Regions from separate parts of the Homo sapiens genome. Here region 1 is linked to region 2. A link means that fine-mapping ties the variant in region 2 to the expression of a gene that starts in the linked region. Tissue or cell type: whole blood. Region 2 holds a variant in brackets; the other region holds the start of a gene. All regions are shown on one strand. Distances are between the middles of the regions.

Evidence for each region. PIP is the estimated chance that this variant, and not a neighbour inherited with it, causes the effect.
Region 1: RNGTT starts here. The variant in region 2 is fine-mapped to the expression of RNGTT in whole blood (TOPMed, PIP 0.97).

What each region holds. Positions count from the first base shown.
Region 1 is chr6:88,957,894-88,969,932 of GRCh38, reverse strand. RNGTT (RNA guanylyltransferase and 5'-phosphatase) reads left to right here and starts at 6,315. Exons shown (of 16, transcript NM_003800.5): 1 at 6,315-6,587. The coding sequence starts at 6,524. RefSeq lists a silencer at 6,018-6,252 and enhancers at 6,236-6,615, 6,970-7,896.
Region 2 is chr6:88,916,888-88,928,926 of GRCh38, reverse strand. All of the region lies in intron 4 of RNGTT (RNA guanylyltransferase and 5'-phosphatase), which reads left to right. Among named protein-coding and RNA genes, the nearest start is that of RNGTT, 41 kb to the left of the region's middle. The variant G/A (reference allele first, on the strand shown) is at 5,600.

The DNA.
Region 1 (12,039 bases), 41 kb before region 2:
ATTGATTGTAAAATGTGTGTTTGAACAATATGAAATCAGTACACCTTGAAAAAGAACAGAATAACAGTGATTTTCAGGGAACAAGGGAAGACACCATAAGGTCTGACTGCCTGCTGGGTAGGGCAGAATAGAGCCATATTTTTCTTCTTGCAGAGAGCCTATAAACGGACAAGCAAGTAGGGAAGATATCGCTGAATTCTTTTCCTAGCAAGGAATATTAATAATTAAGAACCTGGGAAAGGAATACATTCCTGGTGGGAGAAGTCTATAAACAGCTGCTCTGGGAGTGTCTGTCTTATGCAGTTGAGATAAGGACTAAAATATGCCCTGGTCTCCTGCAGTACCCTCAGGCTTACTAGGATTGGGAAACCCTGCCCTGGTAAATTTGAGGTCAGACTGGTTCTCTGCTCTTGAATCCTGTTTTCTGTTGTTTAAGATATTTATCAAGACAATATGTGCACAGCTGAACATAGAACCTTATCAGGAGTTTTTGATTTTGCCCTTTGCCTTGTGGTCTTTGCTTTGCCCTTTGCCTCGTGATATTTATTGGCCTAGAAGCATATGATCTTTGTTCTCCTTTTTGCCCTTTGAAGCATGTGATCTTTGTGACCTACTCCCTGTTCATACACCCCCTCCCCTTTTGAAGTCCTTAATAAAAACCTGCTGGTTTTGCGGCTCAGGTGGGCATCATGGACCTACCGGTATGTGATGTCGCCCCTGGTGGCCCAGCTGTAAAATTCCTCTCTTTGTACTCTTTCTCTTTATTTCTCAGACTGGCCGACACTTAGGGAAAATAGAAAGCACCTTCATTGAAATACTGGGGGTGGGTTCCCCCGATACTCCAAATTTTGTTCACAGGAGTATACCTTACTCAATTATTAAAGGGTGTAAATAGTTCAAAGTAAGTTTCCTTGACTCTGAAAAATAAGGGTCAGCAATATTCTAAGCAAAAGTCAAAAAGATTGCTTCAGCTTTCTGAGTTCAGTCAATTTAGTTCTTGATTTGCTTGATATTCATGAACATTTCAGCTCTTTGTGAGTCTTGTACATTTTTCCTTTTGTTACAATCTCCAAAGTCATCAGAAATTGGTATTTGAGAGCACCTGTTAACGTTCTATAGCTCATTATAAATCATCTTTTGAAAAGGATTAAAACAAGACAACAATTGTCTGTGAATAACAAAATGTCCAGGGTAGTTACAGTTAGAAACACAATTGACAAAGAAGTTTGGTTATCTCAGACATTAGAATTTTAGAAATCCCATACAATTTTGGAACATATATTAGTATTATTCACAATAATATAACCTAAAGAAAACTGGGCCGGGTGCAGTGGCTCATGCCTGTAATCCCAGCACTTTGGGAGGCTGAGGAGGGTAGATCGCCTGAGGTCAGGAGTTCAAGACCAGCCTGGCCAAAATGGCAAAACTCTGTCTCTACTAAAATACAAAAAAATTAGCTGGGCATGGTGGTGGGTGCCTATAATCTCAGCTACTTGGGAGGCTGAGGCAGGAAAATCACTTGAACCTAGGAGGCGGAGGTTGCAGTAAGCTGAGATCGTGTCACTGCACTCCAGCCTGGTTACAGAGTGAGACTCTGTCTCAAAAAAAAAAAAAAAAAAAAAAGAAAAGAAAAAAAGAAAACTGAACATTATTTTGGCAATCCCACATACCTAAACATGTCAACTAATCCTGTTTACATTTCTCTTCTGGACACTCTAGGGTCCTTCTGGAGCCTCTGAAAAGCCAGGTGTCAGGAAAGACAATTTTGAAACTGAAGTTTGATTTTTGGGAAGCCTGTTAAATATGTTAGTGGTTTAAAACACTTGATGTTATGAAATAGAATTCCAGATTTCCATAAATTATTTATTTTGCCAAAATTACTCAGAAATTTTAAAGAAGCAAAAACTTTTTATAACCCTTTACAAATTTTGCTAAAGTGCAGATTAGTGCCTTAAGAAAACTTTGTTGTGCTTTTATTTCAATGCTCAATTTACTTTTGAATTTAGCCAATGTTCACACACAGCATTTCTTTTGCAAGATTAATTTTAACCTTCCAGAACTTGTTTAAACCTTTAGCTTTATCTTACCTAATTTAAAACAATTCCCTAACCCTAGGCAAAAATTTACATTTCCATGCCTTCCATTACCTTTTACTAAAAAACACATTTTACTGTTCTTACACACCTTGCATGTAAATCTATTTTCAGTAGTTTCAATTATACATTATAATGGTAACTCCTAGCAATTTTAACTTTAATGTAAAACCTGGTAAGTTGTTTTAATTGTGTGCCAGGTGCAGCGAAGTTTTGACTCCTTCTAGCATAATTAATGACATGGTTAGTTCCATATGTCCCCAGGCCTTATCAATTGTGAAGCCAGCAAGTCAGATAGTTCTCAAAACTCAAAAAGCAGTTTATAACATTAAAACATTTAGCAAGACTAGTACCTAACCTGCATAATTTAGTCCACCTATTTACATTTTGATGACATCTGTTTTTTACCAATAATCTTTAAGGCTGTTTTTATTTCTCAAAGATTAAAGTCACATGAACTGAAAGGTACCACATCTTTTACCTTCCCTTTAAAAAATATATGATCTAAGCACTTGTCTTCCTTTAGGCCAATTAGAGTTTTTTTTTTTTTTTTTTTTTTTTTTTGAGACAGAGTCTTGTTCTGTTGGCCAGGCTGGAGTGCAGTGGTACAATCTCAGCTCAATGCAACCTCTGCCTCCTGGGTTCAAGGGATTCTCCTGCCTCAGCCTCCCAAATAGCTGGGACTACAGGCACGTCACCACACCTGGCTAATTTTTGTATTTTTAGTAGAGACAGGGTTTCACCATGTTGGCCAAGCTGGTCTCAATCTCTTGACTCTCAAATGATCTGCCTGCCTTGGCCTCCCAAAGTGCTGGGATTACAGGCATGAGCCACCACACCTGGCCTTAGAGCTCCTTTTTTTTTTTTTTTTTTGAGATGGAGTTTTGCTCCTGCTGCCCACGCTGGAGTGCAATCTCCACCTCCCAGGTTTAAGTGATTCTCCTGCCTCAGCCTCCCAAGTAGCTGGGATTACAGGCATGTGCCACCATGCCTGGCTAATTCTGTATTTTTAGTAGAGATGGGGTTTCTCCAAGTTGGTCAGGCTGGTCTTGAACTCTCGACCTCAGGTGATCTGCCTGACTCAGCCTCCCAATGTGCTGGGATTACAGGTGTGAGCCACCGTGCCTGGCCTTTGAGCTCTTTTCATAGACATCATGTACACAACATATATATAGCTACACAGACAGGCAGAAGAAAACCAGTCCCCATAAGATCCTTTTTCACAACCAAACTTTAAGGAGAATATAAACAGGGATCCTTATCATTCCTAGCCTAGTGAAAAAGAAAAAAAACATCTGGTTTAAAAGTTAACTGTTGATGGGGTGAAGAAAAAAGGATGCCTGGGGGAATAAACCTTTTATTCTTAGGCAAATGGTTCCTCTACCAGGGAGAGAAGCTTATCAGATGGAGTTGAGCCTTGGCCAGGGAAGGGGAAGATGCTGTGGACATGTGGCATTCCCCAGCCCCAGCTGGGAGGGGAGAGGGAATGAGGAGCTGCGACTTGCCTATCCTTCCCAAAAAACGAAGGCAAAGGCCATGGAAAGGCCCCTGACCCCAGGGAGCGATGGGAGTGGGGGCATGGTTTCCCTACCCTCAGAAGTCCACGCATGAAAAGGCTTAGAAATGACAGTGAAAAGTTTTGAGTCCCCGTGTCACTCAACCGCTTCTCAAGCCCCACATTGGGTGCCAAAGCTGTTGTACGACTTTCTCCTTAGTTCAGCTAAGAGCTGGGTCCTGGTCACATGGCCATGAAATATTAGGCTCACAGATGCCTTGAAGGGTGAGAATGGAATTTATTGGGCAAAAAGAAAAAAAGGGAAACAGAGACTCTCCCCAAAGCCAGAGTGCTTCCTGCCTGGTAGACTGAATCCCAGGTTCCACCTAGGAAAAGGAGGGGCCAGGCTCCTCCCCACTGCAAATGGCGCAAATTTCCCAAGGCTCCACCACAGGGTGCATTCCTCCCAGTGCTCAGGTCAAAAGGAGATTCTGCCAAGGAATCCTTCCCACCTGGCTGTCTTACCAGCACTTTGGGAGGCTGAGGTGGGAGGGCTGCTTGCAGGAGTTCCAGACGAAAAAAGTATAAAAAAGTTAGTGGGGTGTGGGGGCCTGCACCTGTAGTCCCAGCTCCTTGGGGGCTGAGGTGAGAGGATTGCTTGAGCTTGGGAGGTTGAGGCTCCAGTAAGGCTGCCCTGATCATGCCCACTGCACTCTAGCCTGGGTGAGAAAGTGAGACCCTGTCTGCAAAAACAAAAGATTTATCTACATATCAAAGTGAAGAGGAAGGATTAATAAATATAGGTTTTTCTCAAGGAAAAGTCCTAGGAAAAGGGAAGACAGATAAGATCTCTCTCTTTTGCCAAAAGAGAACGTTCAATCTTATTTTTTACATGTACACACTCTTCCTTATGGGCAAAATGGATGTTTGATGAAAGACTCACCAATGAAGAGAATCTACATCTGATAAAGAGGAGATCAAGACATATCTGGGAGGGTGTCAGGGGTTCCAGGAAGCGGGGGAGGAATCATGTTGGTCTGTCTGTGAGCATCTATTTTTCTTCTCACAGAGTAGTAGAAACTTGGGACTAGGAGCAATATAGGCAGAAACACACATCAGGCAAGGCATTCCTGACAGGCAGAGAGAAACTGCCTGCTCATCGGGATGCCACTCTCCTACTCTACTCTCTATTGTGGACAAAAGGTAGCCACAGGGTCCTCCCAATTCTGTGGCAATGAGTATGGAGAGGGCATAACTGGATAGCAGAATAAAAATCCAGTGCACATTGCTGCCTTACAGCCAATAACAGTTGCTCGCCAGTGGTATGAAGCTTCTGTGTGCCTAGGACTGAGCTACTGGGTATAGCGTGTGTGGGAAGGGGAGTCACCAAGGGGAGTCATCCCCAGAAGGGGAAGGTAAGATACTCTTCCAGGATCAGGCTCACCTTTCCCATCCTTGGAGGGGGTCTGGGGATGGAAGGTTTTTACCACTTTGGGCATGGTACACACTCTATCAGCAGAAAAGGGAATTCATCGGAGATTATTTGGGTAGACTGATGGCCTTAAAGGAAACTGGGTATTATCTTGTTCTGTCAGGGGAGGAGTTTACACCTTCACTAACAGTTCTGAGCAGATGCAACAGCAGGACAGACCAGAAGTGTGACCTAACTCAGGCTGCCTCAGAGAGATTGCTGTTGGACTGCCTCTATTGATGGGACTCTTACTGAGGGGGTCCAGGCATTCAGGGGGTTGAGCGTCCCAGAAAGTTCCCCACCGACGCTTTAAAAATGTATTCCCTGCAGCCTTACGTTCTTGCAGTTCCAATATAGCATTGGTGTTTAAAGCCAAACTACATTATAATTGATTCGCCATCATCCAGCTTTATATTTAACACTTTAATCTGGTAACAAAGGAAAGGCTCGTTAAAGGACGGCATTTATAAAAATTTTTCAAGCACCTCTGCTTAACTCGAAGGGAAAATAAAAGGCACTGTTTATTTGGTAGGCCAAGGAGAACAACGCCACGAAGAGGTTCTCCACTGATCAATTCCTACCTTTGTCAATTATACCACATTAATTAGTAACTTTTTTTGGAGACATGGACCCTCTCAAACTCCCCAGTATGCTTTGAAACTTTGATCCAGAAATGTACAAACAAAACTCTAAGTGTTCTGGAATTAATTTCAGAAGCTTCATAGATCCTCGTAAGTACTCACCAAAAGAAAAATTCCCCATTTCTGGTACTCCAATCTCATGTCCTTAGAATTCTCCTAAGACTTGTTCCCTTGAACAACTTTCCCTAATTGCAAATCAAACCTAGATCCGGCTGGGACGCCAAGCTTGAGCTGTGGTAACGCTCAGAAGGCCTCTTTTCATCAGTAAAATAGATGCCTTAACGGAAGTGGCGGGCAATCTACGCATGGAAAGGCGCTTGGCTTCCCTCTTTTTTGGGTTTCTCTAGGTTGTCTGGATGGGAAAAAAATACACGCTTCGTCCTGCGGAGTTCGGTACGAGGGCAATTGCACATGCGCAAAGGCGAACCAGTAGCGTCCGGGCGCGTCCGTGGAGCGGGACGGGGCGGGGCGGGGCGGTGCCGAGTGGGGCGAGAGAAGGCCCGCTCCTCCCATTCGTCGCGTCCTTAACTCTTTGCTATCCTTCCGCTGAGCTTCCTCTTCTTTCCCTCTGACCTCGGAAAGGGGGCGGGGCTTTCGGGGGCGGAAGTTGCGGTGCATTGTGGGTTCTCCTGGAGCTGTGGAGTTGATCCTGAATGAAAGTGGCGCGCCGCCCCTGACGTTACCCGGATCGGAGAGGTTGGAATTCAGATTACGGCTGCGATTCGGGTGTCTCGGACCCCGGTGTGCACCGGACCACGGGGAGGCGGCTCCAAAGGCGCGGTGAACGTTGGTGAGGGAGGGCAGCTCTGCGCAGCCCCAAGACATGGCTCACAACAAGATCCCGCCGCGGTGGCTGAACTGTCCCCGGCGCGGCCAGCCGGTGGCAGGTAACCTGGACTGGGGGGCGTTCGAATCCCCACACTCCAACGTGCCCGGGGGTGGGCCGACTGAGGAGCTCAGCTTTTGGTGGTTCTGTGCCCATTAGTGGTATTTCAGGAGCGGGATATGCTCCGTCGGATTACGCTTCGTGGATGAATGGGAACATGAACGGGAGGGGATGGTCGGCGGATGGGGGGCACTTGTTACTATTCCTGCAAGGCTAACTGTGCGAATGTGAAGGTAGACAGGAGGTTGGTGGCAGGAGGTGAGGATCCAGGAATACAGTGGGCGTACTTTGAGTCTTAGTAGTTTGCGAACCTGTTAGGGTTCAACCTTCCCCTCGAAAGAAGGGATGAATATCAGTATTGAGATGGAGGAGGGTTAAGGAGGGAAGGGGCGGTTCCCAGCGGTGAAATGGGGTCACATTGAGACTGGGAATCTGGAGGGTGTTTTTGTTAGTTTTTTATTTTTATTTTCTTGTGAGACAGGGTCTCTTGCTCGGGCTGGGGATCCTCCCACCTCAGCCTCCCAAGTAGCTGGGACTACATGCTCCTGCCACCGCACCCGGCTAATTTTTTTATTTATTAAAGTATATATATATTTATAATGTATATATTTGAGACATAGTCTCTCTCTGTCGTCCAGGCTGGAGTGCAGTGGCGTGATCTCGGCTCACTGCCTCAGCCTCCCAAGTAGCTGGGATTACAGGCGCGTGCCACCACACCCGGCTAATTTTTGTTTTTAGTAGAGACAGGGTTTCATCGTGTTGACCAGGCTGGTCTCCAACGCCTGGCCTCAAGTGATCCGCCCGCCTCGGCCTCCCAAAGTGCTGGGATTACAGCCGTGAGCCACTGTGCCTGGCCATAATTTTTTTGTTTATTTTTTGTGGAGACAGGGTTTCACTGTGTTGCCCAGGCTGGTCTTGAACTCGTGGACTCAAGCGATGCTCCCACTTCGGCCTCCCAAAGTGTTGGGATTATAGGCGAGAGCCACCCCGCTTGGCCGGGTTTTTGTTTTTTTTAATTATTTTTCTTGTAGTTTTTTTCATCTTTATTGAGCTTGAATACAATAAGCTTTAAAGCGTACAGTTTGATAAATTTTGACTGTATATACACAAATATATCTCTTTCCTAGGAAACAACCATGAAACCCCTCAAAGTTTCCTCTTGCCCCTTTTTAAATCCCTCCTTCGCCTGGCAGCCACTGATCTGCTTTCTGTAATTATAGATTGGTTTGCATTTTCTAGAAATTTTTAAATAAATGGAAACATATAGTGAGTACTCTTCTTGGGGTGGAAGGAAGTGTGTGTGGCTTTTTTCACTCAGCATAATTAATTTGATACTCATCCAGATTATGCATGTATCAATAGTTTATTCCTTTTTTATTGCAGAGTAGTAGTTTATTGTTCTGGGTATACCACAATTTGTTTACCTGTTCATCTATTGATGGTCATTTGGGTTATTTCCAGTTTTTAGCTATTACAAATAAACCTGCTGTGAACATTCATGTACAATTCTTTGTGTGGACATATACTTTCATTTCTCTTGTGTAAGTCTCTAGGAGAGGAATGGCTGCATCATATGGTAGGTGTATGTTTTAAGAATTTTAAGAAACTGCCAACCTCTTTTCCAAAGTGGTAACACTTGATAGTCCCACCATCAATGTATTATACAGAAGAAATTCAAAGGACTTAAAAACTAGCAAAAAATTTGGACACTTCACAAAATAAGTTATATGAATAGCCAAAAAGCTATGATGGCGTGGTGGTATGTGCCTGTAATCCCAGCTACTCGGGAGGCCGAGGCAGGGGAATCACTTGAACCCAGGAGACGGAGGTTGCAGTGAGCTGAGATTGCACCACTGCACTCCAGCATGGGTGACAGAGTGAGACTCCATCTCAAAAAAAAAAAAAAGTAATTTGTACTTATCGTGTAATTTATTAGTAAGGGTTCTCTAGAGGGACAGAACTAATAGGAAATATATGTACATATATATATATACACACACACACATACATACACACACACACATACAGACGTAAAGGGGAGTTTATTAACTGTTAACTCACACGATCACAAGGTCCCACAATAGGTTGTCAGCAAACTGAGGAGCAAGGAGAGTCAGTCTGAGTCCCAAAATGGAAGAACTTGGAATCCAGTGTTTGAGGGCAGGAAGCGTCCACCACAGGACAAAGATGTAGGCTGGGAGGCTAAGCCGGTCAAGTCTTTTCACATTTTTCTGCCTGCTTTATATTCTAGCCATGCTGGCAGCTGATTAGATGGTGCCCACCCAGATTAAGGGTGGGTTTGCTTTTCCCAGCCCACTGATTCAAATGTTAATCTCCTTTGCAACACCCTCTACACCCAGGATCAATATTTTGCATCCTTCAATCCAATCGAGTTGACACTCAGTATTAACCATCACAGTAATTTCTTTGATATTTTGCATATTGAGGAAAATGTTATGGCTGCTCAAACTTATATGTTGTAAATGTTAGGATTCACTTTACTAGTACTAGAAGTTCATAATTTTCCTGAATCAGAAAGAAAATGGTACTAACTACATATAATTTGTTTCTCTGTGAAGTCACTTTCTCTGATGAAACCAGACTTGCAATGAGAGAGAGCTCTTGGAGACAGGGCCAAGCTTTATTTTCTGAAGAACTGTTTTTTCCTCCTTCTGAGTTAATAGATTTCAGGTGAATACTTGGAAGAAAACAAACTTATAATTTCTTTTCCTTTTTCCTTTTTTTCTTTTCTTTTCTTTTCTTTTTTGTATTTTTAGTAGAGATGGGGTTTCACCATGTTGGCCAGGCTGGTCTCCAACTGCTGACCTCGGGTGATCCGCCTGCCTTGGCCTCCCAAAGTGTTGGCATTACAGGTGTGAGCTACCGCACCCAGCCCTCCCTAGTTTCTTAAAGATATATCATTCAACATAAAATTATTTCATATCTGCTATGTAAAGAGCTTACTAGGAACTGTGGGAATGTAAATATGAGACACAGCCAGGTGCATTGGCACATACTTGTGGTCCCAGGTACTCAGGATAGTGTGATGGTGATAGTGATGGTGATTTTGAAGTCATTTTATTTAGCAAATATTTAAATGTCTACTTTGTGCTAGTCCTGGGTGCTAGGGAGATGGCTAAGATATATTACCCTTAAAAAGCAGAGTCTCATGGGAGTAGCAAACCATCCATTTTAAGCACAGTTCTGTTGTAAAAAATGTAGCAATGACTCTATTGTGGTATATGATGGGAATCAGAGGTAATAAACCTAATTCTTTGAGGTTGAGGAAGAAGAGATGGGAAGGAAGAAGGAGATCAGGTGAGACTTCCCAGAGAAGGTCATACATGAATTATCTTCAGTAAATAGAAGTTTTCTAGATAAATAGTTGGCAGGGGGTGTTATTGAAAGTTTCTGTTAGGATAGGATGATGATGGGAGAGATAATAGACTGAAAAAGTGTCTTTGTTCTGGAAGATGTAAGTGAGGTTAAGAGGTTGGAGAATAGCCTGATCATACAGGCAAGTAGGGTGTGATAAGGTATCCTAATATTTATATGCTTTAAATTTTCAGTGGCATACAATTGCAGTTTTTTTTTTCAGCATCGAGATGAGATTATTTGAATCCAAGTTAAAAGCTTACTTTGACTTTTCTGTGTTTAATGAATTGATGGAGAAAAGAGTGGAAATGGAGAGACTAATTAGGAACTTGTTGTAGTCCAGGTGAAAGACAATAGTGATAGTTTAAAAGTGACAGATGAAGAGTAGAAGGCTAATTTGAGAGATATTAAGAAGGGAAAATGGACAGAACTTGATGTCGTATTTAGAATGAGGGAAAGAGGGTCAAAATTTAGTCTCAAATGTCTGGCTTATGCACATGAGATAGTTGATATTATTAGGGCTTACTGAGAGAGAAGCAGGTTGGAGGAGATATTAAGATCCTGATTGCTCAAATAGAGATCTTTAGTAAAGATCTTTTTAAAAAACATTTTTATGTTATTTCAGTAGTTTTTGGGGGACAGGTGGTTTTTGGTTACATGGATAAGTACTTCAGTGATGATTTCTGAGATTTTGGTGCACCTGTCACTCAAGGAGTGTACACTGTAGTAGTCTTTTATCCCTCATCCCCCCTCTCCACACTTCCCCCTGAGTACCCAAAGTCCATTATATCATTGTTATGTCTTTGCATTCTCATAGCTTAGCTCCCACTTACAAGTGAGAACACAGGATATTTGGGTTTCCATTCCTGAGTTACTTCACTTAGAATGATGGGGTCCAACTCCATCTAGGTTGCCATGAATGCCATTATTTCATTCCTTTTTATGGCTGAGTAGTATTCCATGGTATATATACATATCACATTTTCTTTATCCACTCATTGGTTCTTGGGCATTTAAGCTGGTTCCACATTTTTGCAATTGCAAATTGTGCTGCTGTAAACATGCCTGTGCAAGTGGCTTTTTCAGATAATGACTTATTTTCTTCTGGGTAGATACCCAGTAGTGGGATTGCTGGATCAAATGGTAGTTCTTCTAGTTCTTCAAGGAATCACCATACTGTTTTCCCTAGTGGTTGTAATAATTTACATTCCCACCAGCAGTGTAAAAGTGTTACCTTTTCCCCACATTCATGCCAACATCTAATATTTTTTGATATTTTAATTATGGCCATTCTTGCAGGAGTAAGGTGGTATCTCATTGTAGTTTTAATTTGCATTTCCTTGATAGTGATGTTGAACATTTTTCATATGCTTCTTGGCCAACTGTATATCTTCTTTTGTCTGTTCATGTCCTTTGTCCACTTTTTGATGGGATTATTTGTTTTTTTCTTGCTCATTTGTTTCAGTTCCTTGTAGATTCTGGATATTAGTTCTTTGTCAGATGCATAGTTTGCGAAGATTTTCTCCCACTCTGTGGGTTGTCTGTTTACTCTGCTGATTATTTCTTTTGCTGTGCAGAAGCTTTTTAGTTTAATTAGGTTCCATCTATTTATTTTTGTTTTTGTTGCATTTGCTTTTGGGTTCTTGGTCACGAACTCTGCCTAAGTCAATGTCTAGAAGAGTTTTTTCCAATGTTATCTTCTAGAATTTTTATGGTTTCAGATCTTACTTAAGTTTGAGTTGATCCATCTCCAGTTGACTTTGTATAAGGTGAGAGATGAGTTTCATTCTTCTACGCGTAGCTTGTTAGTTATCCCAGGACCATTTGTTGAATAGGGTGTCCTTTCCCCACTTTATGCTTTTGTTTGCTTTGTCAAAGATCAGTTGGCTGTAAGTGTTTGGCTTTCTTTCTGGGTTCTCTATTCTGTTCCATGGGTCTGTGTGCCTATTTTTATACCAGTACTATGCTGTTTTGGTTACTATAGTCTTGTAGTATAATTTGAAGTTGGGTAATGTGATGCCTTTACATTTGTTCTTTTTTGTTTGCTTACCTTGGCTATTTGGGCTCTTTTTTGGTTC
Region 2 (12,039 bases):
TTTCTTGTTTGCAAATAAGTTGATATGAAAGTTTTTTCTGTTTTAAATAATGACCAAGTAGTGTTTATTAAAATGAGAGATTGACTTGTGAATTATGTAATAAATGTATTTTCATAATTTTTACATTTTTCTAGATAAAGCCCTGATTTCCTCTCTTCAGGTGTCCTGTTGGGAAAGTCTATCCTAAACACTACATATTTATTTTTTATACTTCTACATTTTATAATTTTACATTTTATACTATATTATTCTGAAACTTCATTCTTTTTTATTCAGGATTTCTGAGAGCAATGTATGGTGATGTAATTGTAGTTCATTTTTGCTTCTATATAGTATTCCATTATACAAATACACCACAGTTTATACTCTTGTTGATGCACAATTCCTTCATCAGATTTTTATTGATTGCTACTCTATCTATACCAGGCACCAGCTCGTGGAACACATCAGTGAACAAAATAGAAAAAAACATCCTGCTCTTACAGAGCTCATATTCTAGTGTGGGCTGGAGGCTGAGGGAAGGAGGGCAGGCAATAACAAATTTAATAAGTAAATTTTCATAAAATGGCAGTTACTGAAAATGACTTTTGAGTTATTTTCAGGTTTGTTGTTGTTGTTGTTTTGCTTTTATAAACAATGCTGCTAGGAGTGGTCTTCTAGAATTTTTAAGGTTTGGTTTTAAATTTAATTTTTTTTTAATGAAAAATTATTTTTTGAGACAAAGTCTTGCTGTATCGCCCGGGCCGGAGTGCAGTGCTGCGATCTTGGCTCACTGCAGCCTTGAACTCCTGGGCTCAAGTGATCCTCTCTTCTCAGCTTCCTGAGTAGCTGGGATTACAGGCACACACCACTACCCCCAGCTATTTATTTTTATTTTTATTTTTTGTAGAGACAGGGTCTCACTATGTTGCCCAGGCTTGGTTTGAACTGCTGGTGTCAAGTGATCCTCTTGCCACGGCCTCTCAAAATGCTGAGATTACAGGCATGAGCCACTGTGCCTGGCCAACTTTGCTTTTCTGTTATTTCTGTTGGTATATGGTTTAAATTGAGGATGCAATGTAAAGTTTCCTTTTCTTTCTTTTTTTTTTTTTTTGAGATGGAATCCCACTCTGTTGCCCAGGCTGGAGTGCAGTGGAGTGATCTCGGCTCACTGCAACCTCTGCCTCCCAGGTTCAAGCGATTCTCCCACCTCAGCCCCCTGAGTAGCTGGGATTACAGGCATGCACTACCACACCCTGCTAATTTTTGTATTTTTTTTTTTTTTGAGATGGAGTTTTGCTCTTGTTCCCCTGGCTGGAGTGCAATGGCACACTGTCAGCTCACTGCAACCTCTGCCTCCTGGGTTCAAGCAATTCTCCTGCCTCAGCCTCCTGAGTAGCTGGGATTACAGGCATGTGCCACCATGCCCGGCTAATTATGTATTTTTAGTAGAGACAGGGTTTCTCCATGTTGGTCAGGATGGTCTTGAACTCCCAACCTCAGGTGATCTGCCCGCCTCAGCCTCCCAAAGTGCTGGGATTACAGGTGTGAGCCACCGTGCCGGGCTTAATTTTTGTATTTTTAGTAGAGATGGGGTTTCACCATATTGACTGGGCTGGTCTTGGACTCCTGGCCTCGGGTGATCTGCCTGCCTACCTCGGCCTCCCAAAGTGCTGGGATTACAGGCGTGAACCACCATGCCTGCCCAATTAAATGTTTTCTACATAACCAACCATTTGTTTCAGCACAGTTTATTGAGTAGTTCTTTCTCTTCTTAGGGCTAGATGATGTAAATTCATATATCTACTGTTTGAAAATATTTCCTATTCATCTCATTTTAATTTTTTGGTAATATTTTAAAACTTTTTTTCATCAAATTTTTTTGTGTCTTGTTTGATTTTAAGTAGCTAATGTTTTTCCTTATTTAGATAATTAACGGAAAAACTAGTAGTAAGAAAATTTGGGGATATATTGAGAACGTAAGATAAAAAAGAAAACATCAGCAACTTTCCTGGAAACAAGCAATAATTAGTTAGAAAATATAATCAGAAAATAGTCCCATTAATCTTAACAATATTGGCTATCACATATTGAACATTTCCTCCCTGCTAGTCTTTGTGTAAACCATGTCACACACATTGTCTCATTTTCTTTTCATAGCAATTATATTAGGTAGATAGTATTGTTATGCCCTTAAACTGAGACTTGGAAAAGTTAAGACTGCTGAAGGGTCACTCACACAGCCAGTAAGGGCTAGAGTGTGGATTATATCCTAAGCAATCTGAGTTGCATGTTCACACTTGAAACTACCTCTCTCTTCTATAACAGAAGTACAAAACACCAAGGAATTTTTACTAATAAATGTAGATGGTCTTTATGAAGAAAATATATTTAAATATTAAAATAAACATGAAGAAATGGAGAGACGTTACTTGTTTCCACATTAATTTCAAAGTTTTAATGTTGTTCTAACCAAAATCCCAATGAAAGTTAGGCAGAATTACTTTGAAATTAATTTGTAAAATCCCCACCTCTATTAAGTCACTGAATATTACCGAGCACAGAAAAAAATAGTTTGGCAAATCAGACATGCAAGTTATGAGCAAGAAAAATTTGAAAAACAAGAGTAATGAGGAGATTTTTCTTTCCAGTCATTAAATCATATGGTAAAGCAATGGAACTGATAGCACTAGTTCCTGGTGGTAAAGGAGATGTTTTTAAATTAGAGAGGAAAGGTGTGATTTTTCACCAAATGGTGTTCCATTAGTCAACCACATAATAAGTGAATTTTAGGTGTATTAAATATTTTTAAAAGGACCAAAAAGAATATAGGAGAAAATAGTAAATATTTATTTAATTCTGGAGTAAACAAAGAAGGATATTCCATGTATATCACCAAAGACAGAATCCATAAATGAGTATTTTTCTTTTAGGAGTGCTCCTGGACTGCCTGTATCAGAACCACTTGAAGATACTTGTTAGAAATGTATGTTTTAGGGCCTATCCTGGACCTACGTAATCAAAATGTCTAAGGATGAATGTTAGGAATCCAGATTTTTTTTTAAGAGACAGGGTCTTGCTATGTTGCCCACTTGGAGTGCAGTGTCTATTTATAGGCATGATTATAGCACACTACAGCCTCGAACTCCTGTCCTCAATTGATCCTCCTGCCTTGGCCTCCTGAGTTGCTGGGACTACGTGCACCACTGCACTTTTGCCAGGAATCTAGATTTTCAAAAGAAAAGTATTAGGTGGCTTTTATGCAGACTTAAATTTGAGAACTGCTGTCAGAATTTAAAGTATGGTGGCTATTAATGATGATAGTAACAGCTAGTTGTTTTTTTTTTTTTTTTATGAGGTAAGGTCTTGCCGTATTGCCCAGGCTAGAGTGCAGTGGTGTGACTTCGGCTCACTGCAACCTCTGTCTGCAGGGCTCAAGTGATCCTCCCACCTCAGCCTCCCGAGTAGCTGGGACCATAGGCGTGCGCACCACCACACCCTGCTAATTTTTGTATTTTTTGTAGAGACACTGTTTCACCATGTTGCCTAGGCTGGTCTTGAACTCCTGGGTTCAAGTGATCTACCCACCTTGGCCTCCCAAAGTGCTGGGATTACAGGCGTGAACCCTTATTTATTAATAAGCTAGTATTAATAAATGCTTATTATTTGTTCAGTGGACTTGGGGAACTATAGATAAGGAAAGTGAGTCTCAGAGAAGTTAAGTACTTCGCCCATGGTCATGCATCTAATAAGTAGTTGAGCCAGGTTTTTTCTTTTTTTTTCTTGTCACTGCTATACTAACAAGGATAAGCCAGGTTTTTAATCCAGTTTCTGGCTTTAAAGTTGAAATCTGTAATTAGTTGCTGTAATTAGTTTCTAGTTGGCCACATAAAAGAGAAAAATTTTTGTCTTAAAAAAAAACACAACAGGTGGGTATAGTGGCTCACCATTGTTATCTCAGCACTTTGGGAGGCTAAGATGGGAGGATCACTTGAAGCCAGGGGTTTGAGACCATCCTGAGTAACAAAGTGAGACCCTGTCTCTGTAAATAAAAAAATTAGCCAAGTGCAGCAGTGTACTCCTGTAGTCCCAGCTACTTAAGAGGCTGAAGTGGGAGGACTGCTTGAGCCCAGGAGTTTGAGGCTATAGTGAGGTATGATCACACCTGCACTCCAGCTTGGGCAATAGAGTGAGAATCTGTCTCTAAAAAAAAAAAAAAATTGGAGAGGAGAATGTTTGAGGGCAAAGAAAAAAATAAAACATAAAACAACAACAACAAAAGACACAACAGAAGGGAGGCAAAAAGATGTTGGACAAATTGGGGTCTGGCTTGGTGGCACATGCCTGTAATCCCAGCTACTTGAGAGGCTGAGGCAGAAGGATTGCTTGAGCCCAGGAGTTTGACACTGGTCTGGGCAACATAGCAAGAATTCTGTCTCAAAAAAAGATTTTGACAAATTTGGAAAAATATCTGAAGCATATGTGACATAAAAAGTTAATAATCTTATTTATGAAGATATCTTATACACCAGTAAGTGAAAGAGGCATTCCTTAATAGAAAATTATGGAAAACAATGAAAGAGCAATTTACAGAATATGAAATACAAGAAGCCAAGAAACATGAAAAAAATTTTTCTCACTTGCTAATGAGATACAAATTAAAGTACATGCTGGTAGCTGCACTCCACATCAAATTGGCAAAGATTAAAAAAATTATATTTCTGAGAGCTCCTAGGGGACTTTGCCCTGCATTACCTGGGAGGGGTGTCAGTTCAGTTCTGGGTTGAACAAGGCCCTTGCACATGGCATGTTGGGGGACCAGCCTAAAGTTCTTGTCACCTCCTCATGCGAAGCCAGCCAGCACTATCCTGGATGGAGCCCCCCAGCATTGAGGTGGCCCTTGGCCACCCCTCCTCAGGGCCTCCAGGATAACTTGAGTACCCCTCCCGGTGGCTTCCCCTTCCTCTCCCTGGGGCTGCCAGGGGCACGTTGCTCTGTGCCATGGACTGAAACCAGCTCCTGGTGACAGAATGACCTGTTTGTTGGAAATGCCTTGTTGCCAGAGAAAGGAATCTTGGAACAAAACTATTTTAATTGTGAACTGGCCATAGAACACCTGTTTTTTTTTAAATCAACTTATTAAGTTGGAGCACTATAATAGCTCTTGCTGATTTAGCTACGATATGTTTGTTGAACACATAATGCTATGTTTTATGAGGAAAAGGGATCGTAAGGAAGAGTAATGTTGCACCTAACATTAGGTGGGTAAAAGTGGCCTTGTGTTTGTGTCTGTTTCTACACAGAGCCTTTGGGTTTTGTTCTCTTCATCAGGTAAATGTTTGTTGCATACCCTGCTGCACAGAGAACCTCCCTGCGTCTGTTTCTCTGCTCCTCTGTGGCTGACTCAATAAACTTTTCCTTCTTGGAAAAAAAAATTATAATGTCTGTTAGTGTCAAGGATTGGATAAAATGGGTGCATTCATACACTTTTGAGTGTTAATTGGTATAGTCTCTACAGAGGGCTATGTGGAGAGAGAACATGGTGGTATTTCTCAAGATCCTTAAAAGTGTTTCTCTTGACTCATCAAGACTACGAACTTATTTTAAGGAAGTAGTCAGA[G/A]ATGGACATAAAGAGTTATGTGAAAGGAATTTCACCACAGCTTCCCTTGGTAACAAAAAAACAACCTGGAAACAACAATCATCAATGGTCAGTAAAATCATTAAGTAAAATACAAAATGGAAAACTTTATAACAGAAGAAATGAGCAGCCACCACTTGAACCCACTTATGTTAGTACCACTAAAAGTGGGACAGCCAAACATTATGTGCTTGCTGATGTGGTATGAAAGAAAATACACAGTACCATCTATAAAATATTCTTACCTAAAGTCTTAAAAGTGAATCTAATTATGTCTCTGGATTTAACTATCAATTTACAAGACATATGGGAGATAAGAGAACAAGCTAATTGAAACCATGAGGATGCAATCAGATAAATCCAGAATGTGGAACATTTCATAGAACAGTGGCTAGGCTTTTCCATCATATTGATTGCATTTAAAAGAGCGAATCAGGGACACTTGAGATACCTAACAAAAAATGCAGTTTGTAGGTATTGTTGGATCCTGGTTTGAAACATTAACTTTATCCCAGTACTTTGGGAGGCCGAGGCGGGTGGATCACAAGGTCAGGAGATCAAGACCATCCTGACTAACATGGTGAAACCCTGTTTCTAATAAAAAAATACAAAAAATTAGCTGGGCGTGGTGGCGGACGCCTGTAGTCCCAGCTACTTGGGAGGCTGAGGCAGGAGAATAGCATGAACCCGGGAGGTGGAGCTTGCAGTGAGCCGAGATTGCGCCACTGCACTCCAGCCTGGGTGACAGAGCGAGACTCCATCTCAAAAAAAAAAATTTTTTTTTAAGGTAATTGAGGAAATCTAAAAACAAACTAGGTTCTAGATGACGTTAAGGAATTTATAACTCTTCTTTTGGTATAATTATTGCATGGTAATCATATGAAACCCAGAGTCCTTATTAGAGATGTGTATTGAAACATTTTTAGTGACATGACATGTCTGTGACTTGCTCTAAAATGTAGTTTAAGGTCATTAAAATGCTAATTACTCTGATTTGATCTTTATACATTGTAGACATGTATTGAAATATCACACTCTACCCCATAAATATGTATTTATATATTTATAATACAGTTATTATGTATAAATTAAAAATAATAGTAAGAGCTGGGCCCAGTGGCACATGCCTGTAGTCCCAGCTACTTGGGAGCTAAGGTGGAAAGACTGCTTGAGCCTGGGAGTTGAAGTCCAGCCTGGACAACATAGCCAGACCTGGTCTCTAAAAAATTATTTAATATAATAATAATAAAGGCAAAAAAAAAATTAATGTGGTTGTTCCTCAGACTCCTCAGGGGATTGGTTCTAGGATCCCCCTCAGATACCAAAATCCTCTGATGCTCAGTGCTCAAGTGCCTTGTATAAAATGGCATAGTATTTGCATATGACCTATGAACATCCTGCCGTTTTCTTTGAATCACCTCTAGGTATTACTTATAATACCTAATACAATGTAAGTTCTATGTGAACAGTTACTATATTGTATTTTTAAATTTGTATTATTTTTTACTGTATTTTTTATTGAGTTTTTTCCCAAATATTTTTAATACAGATATAGGAAGGCCAATTTACTCCAAAAATATTATTAAGGGTGGAGGATGAAAAAAAATCAGCAAAATGATAATTACCAAAGAGGGATGATGGATACATGAGGTTTCATTTTTCTATTCTCACTGCTTTGGGTATGTCTGCAAATTTCCATAATAAAAAAAAAATTTGAGAGTACTGCCCCAGAGAAGCTAACAGTATGGTAAAAATTGAAAACATCTGGTTCTAAGGGTTTCAGATAAGGGACTATGAAGCTGTAGTTACTGCTAAGGATTAGAAAAGGTTTCAAGCTTCTGTGTGTTTCAAGAACTTTATATTTCCATGAAGCCTACAGCATTAGCCCACAGCCTCACCAATTATCAACTGATAACTGAATCAGTTGTCAACTGTAATTGATAAATTAACAATTATATCAGCTAATTCAAAGATTACTTTTTTTTTTTTTAAAGACCAGGTCTCACTATGTCACCCAGGCTGGGATTTTTTTTTAAAACCAAGACAGCTTTGAAAAGAAACCTGAGTCTAACCTTTGCCACATCACAAATGTTTACTACTGGTCACAAATATTGATCAGCAAGAGTTTGTGCAAGGCTGATAAAAATTCCTTCTCTGAAACTAAAAATAAATGAAAGTACTATAAAAGCAGGACAGTATTTTCAGATCCTAAGACTACTTAAGCTTGATTCTTTAGTGCTTTTTATTTAGAAAGGTGTTATCAGCAATCAGTTCTGAGACTAGTTTCTGTTATTGTCTCTACAGTAATACTATAAGAAATAACTGGCAATACATCCTGTGCTCCAAAATTTGGCAGGCCCAAAGCAAATGTTTCCAATTCAATCCACATGAACAGAATCACTGCCGGGAATATAAAACAAAATATATATATATCACTAGGTTCTATAAATTTTATAACCTGTAAACACTCAAAACAATTAGAAGTTTTTCTTATCAGTTCTTCTAAGAATACAACTGCACAATTTATAACAAGGATGAATTTGTTTTCCTAAACCTGGAGTATGAATCTTTCTAAAATCATGACATCTAATGCCAGAGGTTAAAATTGCTTGACTGCCCTCCTTTGAATTCATTAAGCATATTTAATGTTTACCCCTATAATGGCTTCTCTCAAATGAGAAAACACTTCTGTGAGTTGTTTTTACTTATTCAGATAAAGGCCTCAGTATTACCTTAAGCTGTGTAGGTTCTAGTCATATACCTCAATATATGTGTATGTATGTGTGACTGTTATATATATTCATATAAATGTATGAATATATATACACACATCCTTAACATATTTCATGTATATCTCATAATATTGTTCTGTTAAATAATAGCTGCATACTGTACCATATAAATAACCTGCTTTTTTCAAAACAACAAATACAGTATAGTAACTGTTCACATAGCACTTACATTGCATTAGGTATTATAAGTAATACCTAGAGGTGATTCAAAGAAAACGGCAGGATGTTCATAGGTCATATGCAAATACTATGCCATTTTATACAAGGCACTTGAGCACTGAGCATCGGAGGATTTTGGTATCTGAGGGGGATCCCAGAACCAATCCCCTGAGGAGTCTGAGGAACAACTGCATTAATTTTTTTTGCCTTTATTGTATTATATTAAATAATTTTTTAGAGACCAGGTCTGGCTATGTTGTTCAGGCTGGACTTCAACTTCATCCCACAAATTGTAACAATTAAAATTGTCTCTAGACATTACAAAATGTCCCCTGGGGGGCAAAATCTTCCCCAGTTGAGAACTACTGAATCCTCGGTGCAGTGGCTCACGCCTGTAATCCCAACACTTTGGGAGGCCGAGGCGGGTGGATCACCTGAGGTCAGAGTTTGAGACCAGCCTGACCACCATGGTGAAACCCTGTCTCTACTAAAAATACAAAATTAGCCAGGCGTGGTGGCGCATGCCTGTAATCCCAGGTACTCAGGAGGCTGAGGTAGAGGTTGTAGTGAGCCGAGATTGCTCCATTGCACTCCAGCCTGGGCAAAAAGAACAAAACTCCGTCTCAAAAAAAAAAAAAAAAAAAAAAAAAAGAACTACTGACCTAATTAGACTGATCAAATAATTAGGATTTTTAGCATTAAAAAATTTATCTAGCTAGTGAGATAGAAATAAAATTGTGGGCCAGGTGTGGTGGCTCATGCCTACAATCCCAGAAGACCAAGGCCAAGGATCTCTTGAGCCCAGGAGTTCAAGACCAGCCTTGGCAACATAGAGAGACCCTGTCTATACCCCCCACACCCTCCAAAATAGTGTATGTTGAGATCAGGCTTTATTTAAAAAGATACATTGTCACCAGCCCCTTTATAAACTGCCCCAACATGTATAGCTATAGCTAATCTCTCTGTCTATTTGTTGGGGAGTTTCTTTCCCTAGTTTGATTGTAAATGCCATATACATTTATTTCATTATATTAGCTTGCCTGGAAAAATTTGAATAGAAGTTGCCTTGAAATAGTTAATTGTGAGCTAATATTTAGTTAAAAACTGTGGCTTACTTACCACTAGATGGACCCATTCTCATGATGAAGAAAACTGAAAATTGCTTTAAACAAAAACTGAAGACGTATCTAAGCTTGTAGTATACCTAATTAATGGATTTTTTAATATCAAATACATAATCTCCCACATTTTTCTATAGTGGTTTGTTTTGATGGTTTTGTAACTTTATAACCCTATCTATAAATGTTTTGATGTATAACTGAACCATTAGACTAAGACTTTTTGTATTTGCATATAAAGAATATTAAAAGGAAAATGGTACTTTCCTAGATTACATATCTTCACATGACATATTAGCTAATTGGCAATTATTATTACATTTCCTATTCATAAAAATATTTAATCTTGCAAGAGTAAAAATTGGATACAAAAACAGTAGCTTAGGTGAGAAACATCGAAAGTTGAAATATTTGTTGCTTGAATTGGTCTGAAATAGAAGATAGTAAGGAAATTTACATGTTGGGTTAAGATACATGAATACAAAAATGTGTTTATAGTGCACATCTTTGTGTGGCTTTTTTGAAGCACTTTTTCTTACAAAGCAATGGAGATAATGGAATTTATAGATTTTCTTGGTCATAGCTATTTATTTCTAAGTGATGTCTTCAGTTCAAGGCTGATCTCTTTGTTTTTTATTTTCTTCTTTCAGAAACTTAATTTCACTTATATCGTTTCTATTATTGTCAAGCTTTGTGGTTTAACTAGGTTCTTGTCCTGAGCCTGTAAACATACCTAAACTTGTTAAATAATCCCCTCCCGCTGAAAAAAACCCCGTACCCTTCTTTCTGTTTTGCATTCCCTCTTCCCTTTCTCAGCTGACTTTTTAAAAGAATCTATACTTGAATCCATTTTTTCCTATCCACTTTGTTGCAGTCTGGAGTCCTCCCTCAGCACTGTTTTTTGTTTGTTTGCTTTTTAAGACTGTGTCTCACTCAGTCATCCAGGCTGGAGTGCAGTGGTGCAATCATAGCTCACTGCATCCTCGACCTCCTGGTCTCGAGCAATCTTCCCACCTCAACCTCCCGAGTAGCTGGTACTACAGGCACTTGCCACCATGCCTGGCTATTTTTTAAATTTTATTTTTTGTAGAGACAGGGTCATACTGTGTTGTCCAGGCTGGTCTTGAACTCCTGGCCTCAAGTGATATTCCCGCCTCGGCCTCCTAAAGTGCAGGGATTACAGGCATGAGCCACTGCACCTGGCTAGCACTCTTAATCAAATAGTGATTTTCCATTCTAATCATTATGTGACATCTAAGCACTCATAACTTAGAAAATTTCCTTTACTTGGCATACATGACCCTGTGTTTTTGTTCTTTGAAGCCCATCATGGTTCATTCTCAGTCTTTTTTTTGAGATGGTGTCTCGCTCTGTCGCCCAGGCTAGAGTGCAGTGGCATGATCTCAGCTCACTGCAATCTCTGCCTCCTGGGCTCACGCGATTCTCCTGCCGCAGCCTCCCGAGTAGCTGGGATTACAGGCAACCGCCACCAACCCCAGTTAATTTTTCTATTTTTAGTAGAGATGAGGTTTCTCCATGTTGGCCAGGCTGATTTTGAACTCCTGGCCTCAAGTGATCCGCCACCCTCAGCCTCCCAAAGTGCTGGGGTGGGGATTACAGGCCAGAGCTATAATCAGCCGTGGGAGTGGTTTTTCTAAACTCTGATAATTTTATTGCCATGCTTAAAATTCTTTACTATATCTCCATTGCCTTTATAATCTTTAGTATGTTTCACAGGTTTTTTTAGGATTTTGACCCTTTCATTTTCTCCAACTGCATTTGGCATTTCTTACCACAGCTCATATTCTAGCCATTCTGATTTATTTATAGTTTGCCATATGTGCTTTTTTGATTAATATATTTACATTTGCACAGATTGTTCCTACTGTCTGCAGTTCCATTGTATAAATATCCTTTTTTATTGAGAGTTGTTCAATGACTAAGGTTTTTATTCTAAATATTAATGGTCATTTTATTATACCAGGAATGTAGAAATTGGTGATTTGGCTCAATTGATAGTTGTTTTCAAAAAAATTTTAAAAGTAGCATGTTTTGTGGTGGGCAGGCCTATGCAAACCTATTCTCAAAGTCCAAGGAAGCAAAGAAACCAAAGAAAGAGACTGACAAATCCGGTTTCTTAGAAAGATATATTTAATAGGGACTTAAAAAGAAACCAGTCCTGCTTGTCAGGTGGCAGTGAGATAAGATGGTGGATCCCCACCATTACTCCCAAGGCCAGGGCTTATAAACCACAGGAAACAGGTGATTCAGAAGGGTTAAGTAGAACAAGTAAGTACAATCACATCAAGGTTGTTTTTACCTTTGGGCAGGATTTATAGTTAGGACATGCTCT